Linked DNA regions of Homo sapiens: regions 1 and 3 are each linked to region 2. The links come from fine-mapping of genetic effects on gene expression. A gene starts in region 2. Each other region holds a variant in brackets. All regions are shown on one strand. Distances are from middle to middle.

The links. PIP is the estimated chance that this variant, and not a neighbour inherited with it, causes the effect.
Region 1: its variant is fine-mapped to the expression of FPR3 in whole blood (INTERVAL, PIP 0.94).
Region 3: its variant is fine-mapped to the expression of FPR3 in nasal epithelium (TOPMed, PIP 0.96).

Annotation. Positions count from the first base shown.
Region 1 is chr19:51,686,531-51,690,699 of GRCh38, reverse strand. SPACA6-AS1 (SPACA6 antisense RNA 1) reads left to right here. Exons shown (of 2, transcript NR_108100.1): 2 at 2,199-4,169. It also overlaps a transcript of SPACA6 not described here. Among named protein-coding and RNA genes, the nearest start is that of MIR99B, 4.0 kb to the left of the region's middle. RefSeq lists enhancers at 269-368, 1-712 and a silencer at 2,490-2,708. The variant C/TC (reference allele first, on the strand shown) is at 2,139.
Region 2 is chr19:51,793,057-51,797,225 of GRCh38, reverse strand. It overlaps FPR3 (formyl peptide receptor 3), which reads right to left and starts at 2,069. Exons shown (of 2, transcript NM_002030.5): 1 at 1,895-2,069.
Region 3 is chr19:52,227,949-52,232,113 of GRCh38, reverse strand. PPP2R1A (protein phosphatase 2 scaffold subunit Aalpha) reads right to left here. Exons shown (of 15, transcript NM_014225.6): 15 at 2,596-4,165. It overlaps LOC105372449 (a long non-coding RNA gene), which reads right to left and starts at 687. Exons shown (of 3, transcript XR_001753993.2): 1 at 600-687. The variant G/A (reference allele first, on the strand shown) is at 2,285.

The DNA of each region.
Region 1 (4,169 bases), 110 kb after region 2:
AAGGCGTTGGTGGAAACGCGAACTCCCTGGGCCCATAGCCCCGCTTTGGGGAAGGGGTAGGCTCTGGACTTCCCCCAGGCCTAGGTCCCCCTCCCCCTCTCTGCGGACCCTGGGGAGCCCCCAAGGGTCAGAGAGCAGACCCAAACAGTCTGGCACCATGGCAACTAGCTGGTCCCGCCCCCTTAACCCCTGGAGGGCTGGACTCCAGCTGGGGCTAAAGAGGAGGTGGGGACTCCTGGGTTCCGGAGGAGGAGGGGCCTGGGGATCCCCAGAACTGCAGGCTTCAAAGGGAGAAAGATGCCGGAGCCTGAACGCTTGGGTTCTAGAGGAACAGAGGGTTGGGGGCCGCGCTCCTTGGGAAGAGGGGCTGAGGTTCTGAACTCTGGGGTTTTGAAGGAGTTAGGGGCTGGAGTGTGGATTCCCTGGTCTGAGAGAACAGACTGGGGGCTCAGACTCCTGGATCCTGGAAAAAAGGGGGCTGGGGGCTCGGATTCTGGAATGGGTGGGGGACTGGGTGGTGTACTCCCAGATCTGAGGGAGGAGGGGTCTGGGACCTGGAATCCCGGGTCCCCGAGGGAGCATGGATGCTGGGCCTCTCCTCCTCCAGACATCTCCTGCCCCCGCCGCTGACCCTGGCCTGTCTGGCAGCCCAGACAACCTCCCCCTCCTCCTCGGCCCCCTCCCACTGGCACGGCTCACCCTTGACCCCTCAAAGCCCCGCAGCCCCATCCCTGCGCCTCCCCCTCCCCTCCAGCCAGACGTTAACCCTTCCGCTGCCGCAGGCACTCCAAAGCCAGTCTTCCTCCACCTCCCCCGAGGGCTCGGGCAGCTCGCCCCTAGTCTCTTCCAGCCACGATCCTACCAGCCCCAGCCCCCATCTCTGTCCTCCCTCTTGAATCCAGGAAGTGTCCCCAGCCTTCTCCAGATTCTGGACCCCGGGATCCAGGTCCCAGCCCCCTCCTTCAAGGATTCAGGAGTCTGGGCTCCCAGCCACCCCACCCTCCCCACCCCCAACTCCTCCTCCAAGAACCCTGAAATCCAGGCCCCCGGGTGCTCCTCCCTCAGGGACCCAGGAGTGCGGGCCCCAGCCCCCCACCCTCCCTTTCCGCAGACTCACGGCTCCCGCGGCTCCCGCGTCGCAGGGAAGGGGTCTTCTCCGCCGCCCCGGGCCCGCAGGCCGGGCCCCACCGCCGCCGAGCGCTCTCCATCCTCTCCCCGCCTTCGCCGCACGGCGGCCTCTCCCCTTCCTCCCGCCGTCCCCGCCATCCTCCTTCCCTTCTCCCCGACTCCCTCCGGCCGTCACCTCCTCCCCGGCTCTGCGGTCCGGGGCTCCCCCTCCCTGGACCCCGCCGGCTGCGCGGCCGTCGGACCAGCCCCCTCCCCAGGGGGCCCCCCGCCCCGGCCCCTCCCCACCGCCCAGCCCAGTCCGGCCTGGCTTCCCCCCTGCCCCGGAGCTGGCCCAGGTCCAGGGGAAAAAATTCCATCCAGCCCCGGGGAGGAGGAGGGAGCGGGAGGGGGAGGCCGGGCCAGAGAAGCCTGACGCAGAGGAGGGAAGGGACAAAAGAGGCCGGGAGGCGGCGGGGCCGGCGCTCCCGCTCGCCCGCCCTCCTCCTCGGCCAGTCTCGCTCCTCCCCGGCTTTCCCTAGCTCCCCTCCGCCTCTCCGCCCCGTCCTGTCCCTCGCTGGCCTCCCTCCCTCTTCTCTCCTGCGCCTCCTCCTCGCTCTGTGCGTGCTCTCTCGCTCTCTCTCTCCCTCTCTCCCTCCCTCCCTTCTCTCTCGTTCTCTCTCTCTCTCTCTCCCTCTTTCCCTCCTCCTCTCTGCTCCTGTCATTCTTGGTTGCTTTTGCTGCCTCTCTGTGTCTCTTTCCGTCTGTCCTCCCTTCTGTCTCTGCACATCTGTCCTTCCTTTCGCCCTCTCCCTATCTCCATCCTCTTTCTCTGCCTGTGGGGCATTATCTGTGTCTCCCATTTATTCTTCCCTTTTCTCTGTTTCTCTCCCTCCCTTCCTGTCTCTGTGTCTCTGTTCTTCCTCTCTCTCGCTTTCTCCTCCCCTCTCTCCCCGAACCAGTCAGGGTCTGCCCGTCTCTCTCTCCCCCTTCCTGCTCTCCCAGCTTCGCCCCCACCAGCTTTAGTATCTCCA[C/TC]CCCCCACCCCCACCCACTGGGGGCTCAAAGGTGAATCAGACCCGAATCTGCCCTTGCAGATGGAGCTCACAGTCTGATGGAAGAGACAGAGCCAGCCGCAGACAGTCCCAATCCCGGGTGATCTGGGTATGACACAGGGAGAGGCCAGAGGCTGTGAGAGCCCAGGGCGGGAGGAATCCTGGCAGCTGGAGACGGCAGAGAGGACCTCCAGAGAAGGCGTGGTTGTGGCATGACCTCCACTAAGGCCCTTCCAGGCAGAGGGCACAGCTGAAGCGAAGGCCCAAGGCAGGAAACCAAGGAGGTGCTGGGAGGACAACAAAGCCCTTAAGTCTGACTAGAGCCTCCGAAGCCAGGAGCCAAGGAGCACAGGAGATGAGGCTGGTGGGGCGAGCGGGCGGGGTCAGATTCTTAGGGAGTTTCAGGCCAGGCTGGGAACTTAGCCTTCTGAGGGTGACAGGGAGCCCTGGAAGGTTGTGAGCAAGGGGCGGGGACACGGTTATAGCTGAATGTCAGACCCCGCTGAGGCTGTGTGGAGTGGAGGGGGAGAGACGGGTGGAGGCTGGGGAGGAGGCCCCCTCCCTGCAGTTTGCGGGCTAGGACCTGGGGAGAGAGGAAGGGGTGGGGCAGGAATGTGAGGAGCTGGAGATGGCTGGAGACTGCTGGGCACTGGGGGCAGAGAACAGGAACCTGTGGGCGGGAAACAGGTAGGAAAACTACAACTCCCTGAGTCTGGCCCAGGAACGGATGGGGCAGGAGTTGCTTTCAATGGGGAACTAGGAGGAAGAAGAGGGTAGAGGAGAGAGATGCTGTGGGCATCTGAGAACTTAGTGGACATTAAGAGCCAGGGAAAACGTTCAGGATGCATGGTGCTGGGCTTTCAACAGTGCATCTCCCTCCCTCCCTATCCTCCAGCCACCCAGTTCTCCTCTCTGGGGACAGCATATATTCACTAATTTCTTATGTATCTTTCCAGAGGAATTTTATACATCTATGCACATATATACCACCCTCCTCTTTTCTGTCCCCTGATAGGATCACATTATTCTGCACCTTGGTTTTTTTTTTTTTTTTTACATGATATCCAAAGATCCTCCCATATCTAGGCTTATAGAACCTCCTCATTCATTTTAATAGTGATATAATATTCCATTGTATTCATCTATTTATTCCTAGTGTATTCAGTTAATTGGGAGATTGGGAGGTTTTTTATGTCAAGAAACTAATGGTTATGCATATTGATATTTACAGATTTGCTTATGTATGTATGTATGTATGTATGTATGTATGTATGTATGTATGTATTTATTTTTGAGACGGATTGCCCAGGCTGGAGTGCAGTGGCATTATCTCAGATCACTGCAACCTCTGCCTTCCAGGTTCAAGCCATTCTCCCACCTCAGCCTCCCACGTGGTTGGAACTACAGGCCTGCGCCACCAGGCCCGGCTAATTTTTGTGTATTCTGTAGAGATGGGGTTTTGCCACGTTTGCTGGACTGGTCTTGAACTTCTGACCTCAAGTGATCCTCCCACCTTGGCTGAGCCACCACACCTGGCCCAAATTTGCTGATTTTTAAAGTGATTTTGTCCAATGCTTTTAAGCCTCTAAACCCAGATATTCGATAAATGCTTACTTCTAGATCCTTTAAAATTTGTTGATAATTACTAACAATGGGATAATAATAATGACAACAGATACCCTTTATTGAATGACTACTTGGAGCCAGTTCCTGGGATGAGTATTTGTTATACATTATATCATTGATTACACAGAAACCTTATTATTAGAAACTATTATTATCCCAATTGTAAGGATGGAATACTGAATAGGATGCAGTTCTGAATAGCGAGTTGCCCAAGCTCACAAAGTATGTGATGGAGCTAGAGATTCAAACCCAGGCCTCTCTGGCTCCTTCTTTGGGGTGGGCTTGCTCTGGGAAAATATGCTATTTCTAAGGATTGACACTGGGTACATTTAAACTTGTCATGCACACAAATTCATGTATGATTAAGAAGGACCCTTTGTCAGACCC
Region 2 (4,169 bases):
TCCACCTAATGCATTTTCCCAAGGATGCTTATGACCCCCAGGCTGCCAAATCCAGTGAGTCCTTCTCAGTTTTTAAGACCTGATATCCCAATGACACAGGACCCATTGGATCACTTTCTCCCTTTTCAAACACATTTTTCCTATGCCATGAGATATATCCAAGAGATATGTGCACACAATACACTCTTGGTCGTCTCTACAGCTCGATTCTCTTCCTCTTTTTAGTCCAATTTACGGTGTTTTCTATTCTAAATTTGACTCTAAATGTTGGGGTATCTCACATTCTATAAATGATATCATCCAGTCTCTGGGATTAAACCATTATGCTGTCTTTTCATCTAAATTATCAGCCGTGGCCTCTCCCTGGCACTCAAGTCTGATAAAACCTCTCCCCGTGGGAGTCCCATAGACTCCAAACCTCACATGGTTTTACCAAACTGTTGATGTTCTCTGCCTCCCAGACCTGCCACTCTTCCAATATTCTGTATCTATTTGGAGATTAAATATTCAGTTGTTAAAGCTCCAGATCTAGAACTCACCTTTCATTTCTCTTTTCCTCACCACCCAACGCCATCCACGTCTTACTCATTCTATCTACAGAACATGCTGAATGCACAGCCAGAGCCATTGCCATCTCCACGACCGGTGTCCATGGCCCTGTCAGGCTTGGATATTTGCACAAGCCTTGCAAATAGCTTTTTCCTGGTCCTGCTGCCCCCTCCCCTAAGATCCATTCTCCAGACAGAAACCAAATGAGCTTTAAAAAGGTCCAATAAGATGGTGATGTTATTCGCAATACCTTCCGATGGCTTCCAGACTTCTAAGTTACCCTTATCTTAGGTTCCCTTATCCTAGGTTCCCTTATCCACTGCCACATGTGCCCTGTGCATCCCTCAGACCTCATCTCTGCACTCTCATCAGACACACTGGGCTCCACCCACTGGGCTCTAATTCCTTGAACTTGCAGCTCTTTGTCATCTCAGGGCTTCTGCTTTCTCTATTCCTTCTGCCTACCGTGCTCTTCGTCTTGAGCTTCCTGCACCTGGCTCATCCTGAATATTCATATTTCAGGTCAAATATTATTTCAGAGAGATCCCACCTCACCCACTCTGCAAAGCAGAATGCTCAGGTACAGCCTATCTCACCAGATACTTTTCTCCTTTATTTGTTTGTTCATTTATCTTCTCTCTTAAATACCCTCCACACTAGTACGTAAGCTCCACAGGACTATCAAGATCCTTCAATGCTACATCTCTACAATGCTACATGTCCAGTAGAAATATAATGTGTTAACTTTAGCTACATATGGGACTCAAAATTTTTTTGTAGCCACTGTTTTTAAAAAAGTAAAACACCTTTGGGGAAATTATTTTAGTAATAAATTTTATTTAATTACATATATGATAAAGAATTGGCCAGTCACATTGGCTCACGCCTGTAATCCCAGCACTTTGGGAGGCCGAGGTGGGCAGATCACGAGGTCAGGAGTTGAAGACCAGCCTGGCCAACATATTGAAACCCCGTCTCTACTAAAAATACAAAAAATTAGCCAGGCGTGGTGGCAGGTGCCTGTAATCCCAGCTACTCAGGAGGCTGAGGCAGGAGAATCGCTTGAACCTGGGAGGCAGAGGTTGCAGTGGGCTGAGATTGTGCCACTGCACTCCAGCCTGGGTGACAGCGCAAGACTCCATCAAAAAAAAAAAAAAAAAAAAAAAAAAAAAGAATGTTACTGGAACATGTAACCAAATTAAACACTGTTAATGAAATAGTTAACATTGTTTTCATACTAACGAAGTGGATTCTTCACTGGACTACGCTACTCCAGAGTTAGAAGGGCTCTGTCATATAGCAGGCATTTCAACAATAACTTTAAAATTTTCAGACCCCAACTTACCACCAGCTTAGATCCTTTTCCTGTGCCCAGTTCCTGGATTCCTGTGGAGCAACTCAGGCTCTAAGTACTTGTAAAAAGATGAAGTTATATGTTTGGTTTTAAGATCTTAATTGGCTTTGGTTATAAAGATGGAATCAGACAGCCTGTCATGCTATAAAACAAAATGAGTGTTTTGATAGTTAGAGCCAAGGAAGTTGGTTTTACAGGGATAGGAGGGCTAAAGAAAGCAGAAACAGAGAACAAAAACCTGATTGGTCATCTGGATGTTGCATTTTTTTTGTGCAGCAGGAATAGAGAGACAGCAATAAGGAACAACTGATTGATTGAAGTCAAGTTACCACAGATTGCTTTTTTTTTTTTTTTGTAAAGATGAAAGCAGACAGAACTTCATGTTCATGCCCACTGAAACTGGCCTGTTTTAGGAATTTGTCCATTTTCTCTCTCTCCTGATTTCTCAAAAGTTCAGATACATTAGTTTTGGTTTGGTGATGTGGAGTTTTAGTATGACTGACTCCATTTGGTTTGCTTTGTCGAACCTAGTACAATAGGTCAGTCCAAACCACTTACTTGCTGTTTTTATAGAACAGGCTTCAGCAGAGACTTAGTTGAAGGACACGGGGACAATGGAGCTGGAATCAATCCAGTGACACAAACTCAGGGTTTCTTACCATTCCCAGAAGACACCTTGGAGATGTTCTCAGACGATTTATCTTGGAAACTTATGTGTCTGAATGTTCCTTCACCTCTAGCCTTCTGTGGGAGACTGGAGTTCATCCTTCCAAATATCAAAGGCCAAGAAATCTGAGAGTCCAGGCCCTTTCTTTTCAGAGATTCAGGAAAATGAAAGAAACAATTACCAAGGTGAGAAGAATGAGAGGAAAAACAATAAAAAAACAAAGATGCACGGTGAAACAAAAACTCGATTCTCTACTTTCACAATCCTTCTGACCAAATATACTTTTTCTCTACACCAAGAAATTCTCCAATTCTCTGGGGACACCACCTGGGCCACCTGCAATTAAAAATTCGGTTATGATGCTGTCTACCTGGATTCAGCTCAGATCCGAAAAGCTAAAGGGCTCACTCCCACAAACTGTTCTCAGATCAGATCAGACATCTGTTGCAAGTCCCAGGTGGCTACTTGTACTTCTGACTGACAGGCTATAAATTGGGTGTTCCAATGACACCAATAAATTGCTAGAATGGCACACAGAACTCAGGAAAGCACTTTGTTTGCATCTGTTGCTTTATATAAGGAATATACCTCAGGAATAGTCCATTGGAAAGAGGCATATGGCAGGTATATGGCAGGGAAGGGGTTGGGTGGTGCATGGAGCTTCCATGCTCTCTTCAGGCAGCCACTCTCCCAGCACTCCTGAGTGTTCACCAATGTGGAAGCTCATCAAATCTCATTGTTCAAGAGTTTTTATGGAACTCAATCTCCAGTCCCTGCCTCCCCTTCCTGGAGATCAGTAGGTGGGGCTGACAGCTCCAACCCTCTAATCCCTTGGTCTTTCTGGTGACCAGTCCCATCCTAAGGCCATGATCTCCTTAGCATAAACTCAGCTATGATCAAAAGGGGCTGTTTATGAATAACAAATAATACTCCTATCACTCAGGGAATTCCAAGGGTTTTAAGAGCCCTGTGCCAGAAATCTGTGACAAAATCAAATATGCTTTGAGGTATTTCATACCTCAGAGTTACAAAGAGAAGCAGTAACTAGGAGCATGTAGAGAGGTAAGGAAGGTAAATGAGAGACACTGTACACTCCACACCATTGCCGAGATTAACCCCCTAACCTTCTGCCCCTAGGGAGATGCTCTATGGACTACTGATCTAAGGAGATGGGCTCTTTCTGAGTTTTTAAACACCATCAGAATGTTGTTCTCAAGCCCAAGGAATAGAACCATGAAAAACAGTGGAGAGCCACAAAACAAGAGTCAACTATTTTCTATTTTCTCTCTGATTCACTGGATGTTTTCAGTGATAAGGTAGAGTAAACCAATGAAGCACATAAGCCATGGAGAAATTTATTATTAAAAAAAGTTTTGGAAGGGGATAGATCTGGAGTTTGAACAAAAATTGAGTTTAATGTCACCCTTCCACTCCATCATCATATTGGTTTTCTTCTAGGGCTTTCTTGAAAGTGACCACAGAATGGCTGCCACTGTTCTGGACATTGCATCAACAGGCCCTCCCGAGCCAGAATCATGAGACAGGCAGAAAATGTGACTCATTCACATGCCTCTTCCATTTTATTACAGAGGGAAACCT
Region 3 (4,165 bases), 430 kb before region 2:
ACTCCACAATTTCTGGTTTTGATTAGGTCAGAGTATACATAGATATCTAAGAGATGAGGCAGTACAGCTGATATTTGGGTTACATACAGAATAGCAGGGGAGTTATTAGTGTATATAAAGTATGATGAGAGAATGAAGGTGGGAAGTAAGGAGGCCCAAAAGATCAAGTGGGGTCAGCACAGGTGGTAGTGAACCCATGCCCAAAGAGTTAAATAAACCAGTAACTAACAAAGATTATGAATTTACAGAACAGCAGATAAGAAATAACTTTCTGAAATGCTCAAACTCCCTCTACAAAACTGGCCAAAATTGGTTGAAACCAATATGGCCAAATGGAGTTTGCACAGACCAAGCATGCTGATGTCACAGCCTGAATTTCCTCACCATGTTTCAAACTCCCACTAAATGTGCGCATGATGCATGAGGAGACATGAAGAGAACTGTGCATGCCTGAAGACTTTCCAGACCTCTCCTTTCCTTCTACCTATCACCTGAGAACCCCAGAATCCACCTCCTAAACGTTTTATAATTAAATTACTGCCTTAAAACCAGCACAGGGAGACAGATTTGAGCTTGACTCATCTTGTGAGTCAACTTACAATAAAAAACTTTTCTTTCTCAAAAACCTGGTGTCAAAATATTGGCTTCCAGTGCCTCAGGGAGAGAGCTCCTTTTGCTTGACAACAGTAGTATCAATTAGACCAGATGGTATAACAGGGACTGCAGGTTCATCTTTTCTTAGTGCCTTTCCCCACCCTTAAGAATCTTTTGGGACTGTTCCATTGCTGTGTGATGCAGGCACAGAACTCAAGAGTGAACATGCTGAGAATTCTCGATGCCAGGCTGCCCAAGGCCACAGTGAGCATCAGATAAGGGAGAACTATTCCTTTGTTCTGAAGACTTCATGACTCAGGGCTGAGCTCAATCTAAATGACATGCAGCATTATTTTCTACTTACTATGTAGTCTAGGGTTCCTCCTGTTTCTCTGCCACCTAGAGATCAATTCATTTTTATCAATATTTGGGAAAATCAGTGACATAAATCAGGTAAGAGGACCCTAGATCCAGCCTCCAGGATCCTGCCCTTTGCCTGTTGATCCTGCCCTTTGCCTTTGCACTTTTCTAAATAAATTACACTAGCACAGACACACTGACATGCAGACTCTTGGGAGATACCAGCACATAAGCACTTCAGAGCAGTTTGGGGATGACAGGTATCAGAGTGAGGGCTAGGCTGGGGCTTCTATCTGAAGTTCATAATCTATCTGTGTGTGTCGGCTAGCTCCTGGGAAAATCCCAGGGTATTTCTGTGGCCATGGGGGAGATTATTGAGACAGGGCAGGATCCCTGCAGAAGTGTCTCCCAGACACTTATTATTTCCCTTTTCATATGAAGATCTCTGGACCAAGCCTCCATGATAGGGCTGATCTGGAGACCACTGCGGATGCTGTGAAAGCCTCTGATCACATAGGAGAGTAAGCTCTGGCCTCAGAAAGCAGGATCCTATCCAAGAGAGCTCCATGCTCCTGGAGGTGAGATTCTGTATGCTCCTTCAGTAGAAGGCCACAGACTGAATAATCAATTGAGAATCGCATATCTTTTAGTTTCCCAAAAAAGAAAAATTTTTAAAGTATTTTTATCCATGTTAAGAGTAACAGCTACTCAGGAGGCTGAGGCAGGAGAATCGCTTCAACCCAGGAGGTGGAGGTTACAGTGAGTGGAGATTGCACCACTGCCCTCCAGCCTGGGCAACAGAGCGAGACTCCATCTCAAAAAGTAAACAAAAATGGCTGGGTGCGGTGGCTCACCCCTGTAATCCCAGCATTTTGGGAGGCTGAGGCGGGCGGATGATCTGAGGTCGGGAGTTTGAGACCAGCATGACCAACACGGAGAAACCCCGTCTCTACTAAAAATAGAAAATTAGGCGGGCGTGGTGGCGCATGCCTGTAATCCCAGCTACTTGTGAGGCTGAGGCAGGAGAATCGCTTGAACCTGGGAGGTGGAGTGCCAGTGCACTCCAGCCTGGGCAACAAGAGCAAAACTCCGTCTCAAAAAATAAAATAAAATAAAAGCTTAGTATCTGTACAAAATATACGAAAAAAGAGGAGTAACAGCAAAGGAACACAGACCTGAATTAACTCAACAGTATTCATGAATAATAAACATCTGCCATTTGCCTAGAGAGTGAGATTGGAGTTCTAGCCCCTCATTCTTATTTTCAGCATCAGGGAAGGCCCATTCTCCCTACTGCTCTAGAATATGCACAGGGTACAGGAACAGCAGG[G/A]TGGGGACTGAGCCTAAGCCCAAGCTAAGGGGTGGGTGGAAGCAGATTCCCGCTACTCAGCTTCTGTCAGGAAAGGCATGTGCTCTTGGGGACAGAGAGCAGTGATTCCCCATGAAGAGTTGGGGCCTCAGGTTTCCCTTCCCTCCTCCGAAGTCTGGGAAGGACCCAATCAGCCAACCCAAACTTCGAGCTACTAGTCTCTTACCCTTCCTGGAGGCCGACTGGGAAAAATCCAGCCCTACAAAGCCTGTAACCCCCCACCACCTTGCAGCTCTGTATGGCAAGACATCGAGAGAGCGGGGAAGGCCTGCTGGAGTCAAGGCCTGGCACTAAATCTTTATTGGATTTTCTCTTTTTGACAAGTTCCTGAATTATTATTTTTTTTCATATGGGGTCTTGCTCTGTCACCCTGGCTGGAGTGCAATGGCCCAATCTAGGCTCACTGCAACCTCTGCCTCCCAGGTTCAAGCAATCCTCCCGCCTCAGCCTCCTGAGTAGCTGGGATTACAGGCGCCCTCCACCACGCCCAGCTAATTTTTTCATATTTTTAGTAAAGACAGGGTTTCACTGAATTGGTCAGGATGGTCTCGAACTCCCGGCCTCAGGTGATCCGCCCACCTCGGCCTCCCAAAGCGCTGGGATTACAGGTGCGAGCCACTGTGCCCACACCAATTTTTTTAAATTTATGCCTCATGCCACCAGCTTGGGTAGATGAACCTGGCCTCCTTCCCTCCAGCCCTGATGGCCACAGGCAGAATCTTGTCGGTGCCCTGCAGTTCACTCCTCGGGGCTGAGGCACCACCTCGTCATCTTCATCTGCCCGGGGGAGCCATGGTAATTCTCCTCTAGCGACAACCACAGCTCAAGCACCATAGGCAGATTCTGCACCCTGAGTCAAGGGCATGGTGATTCTAGAGCTCTACTCGTGCCCCTATGCATTAGCCAAAGGCAACAAGTGACTCGACCTCATCCACATCCAGATGTCTGGGTCAATGCAGTGGAAGGAAGGGGTCAGTGAAGAGGCTGTTGGCAAAAACAGCCAAAGAAGTGCAGTCATCACAAAAGGAGACAAAATTTGTGTGTGGGCTCTGAAGAACAGTGCTGTGGAAGGAACCATTAGAGATGGCCAGTGTGACTGCTGGGATTTAGGCCTAGAGAGCGGGAGAAACAGGCCAGGGTCATGAGTCCTGGCTCCACACAGTCTCTCCACCCTGACCCAGCTCCAGCATCAAACTTCAGCTGCTACAGAGAAGGCCAGGTGTATGGAGCAAACAAAGCCTGCAGCCTGGGAGATTAGGAACCACTCCTAACAATGGACTTAATAACATCACATTCATCACCTGATTGGATTCTTCCAACATGAAGCTCACAGAAGGTGAGTTACCTCAGTCCGTTCTCCTGAGAGCACTCCCTCAGTAACACACTTGAACGAGTCTCCACTCGGGCTCTGCTTCTAGAGCACATGACCCAAGACACCAGGCAACTCCTGGTTAACTCAGGACTCTGCCAGCGTTCAATAACTCAAGCTATCCTTCACCCTCGTCTCTCATACTCACTCCTGTGGTCGCTGAGTATCACCTCATTACCCAGCACATCCTGGGTATCCATCGCACCTCCACCTCCTGTAATAATCCCATTCCATCACTTGCCCAATCTAGCAGCCTCAACATATCCCTGAGCCTTGTCTACATACACATGTCCAATTGTAGACCCCACCTCTGAGCCATAGCACATCCTCAGCCCTAGACCCACGTAGCATTAACCTCACTCTCAAGAGAGAAAAACTGGGTTAGTATTTAAGGCAGGACTTCTCTAACTTCAGTGTGCAGATGAACCTGGGCATCTTGTTAAAATGAAGGCTCTGCCTGAGCAGGTCGGGGC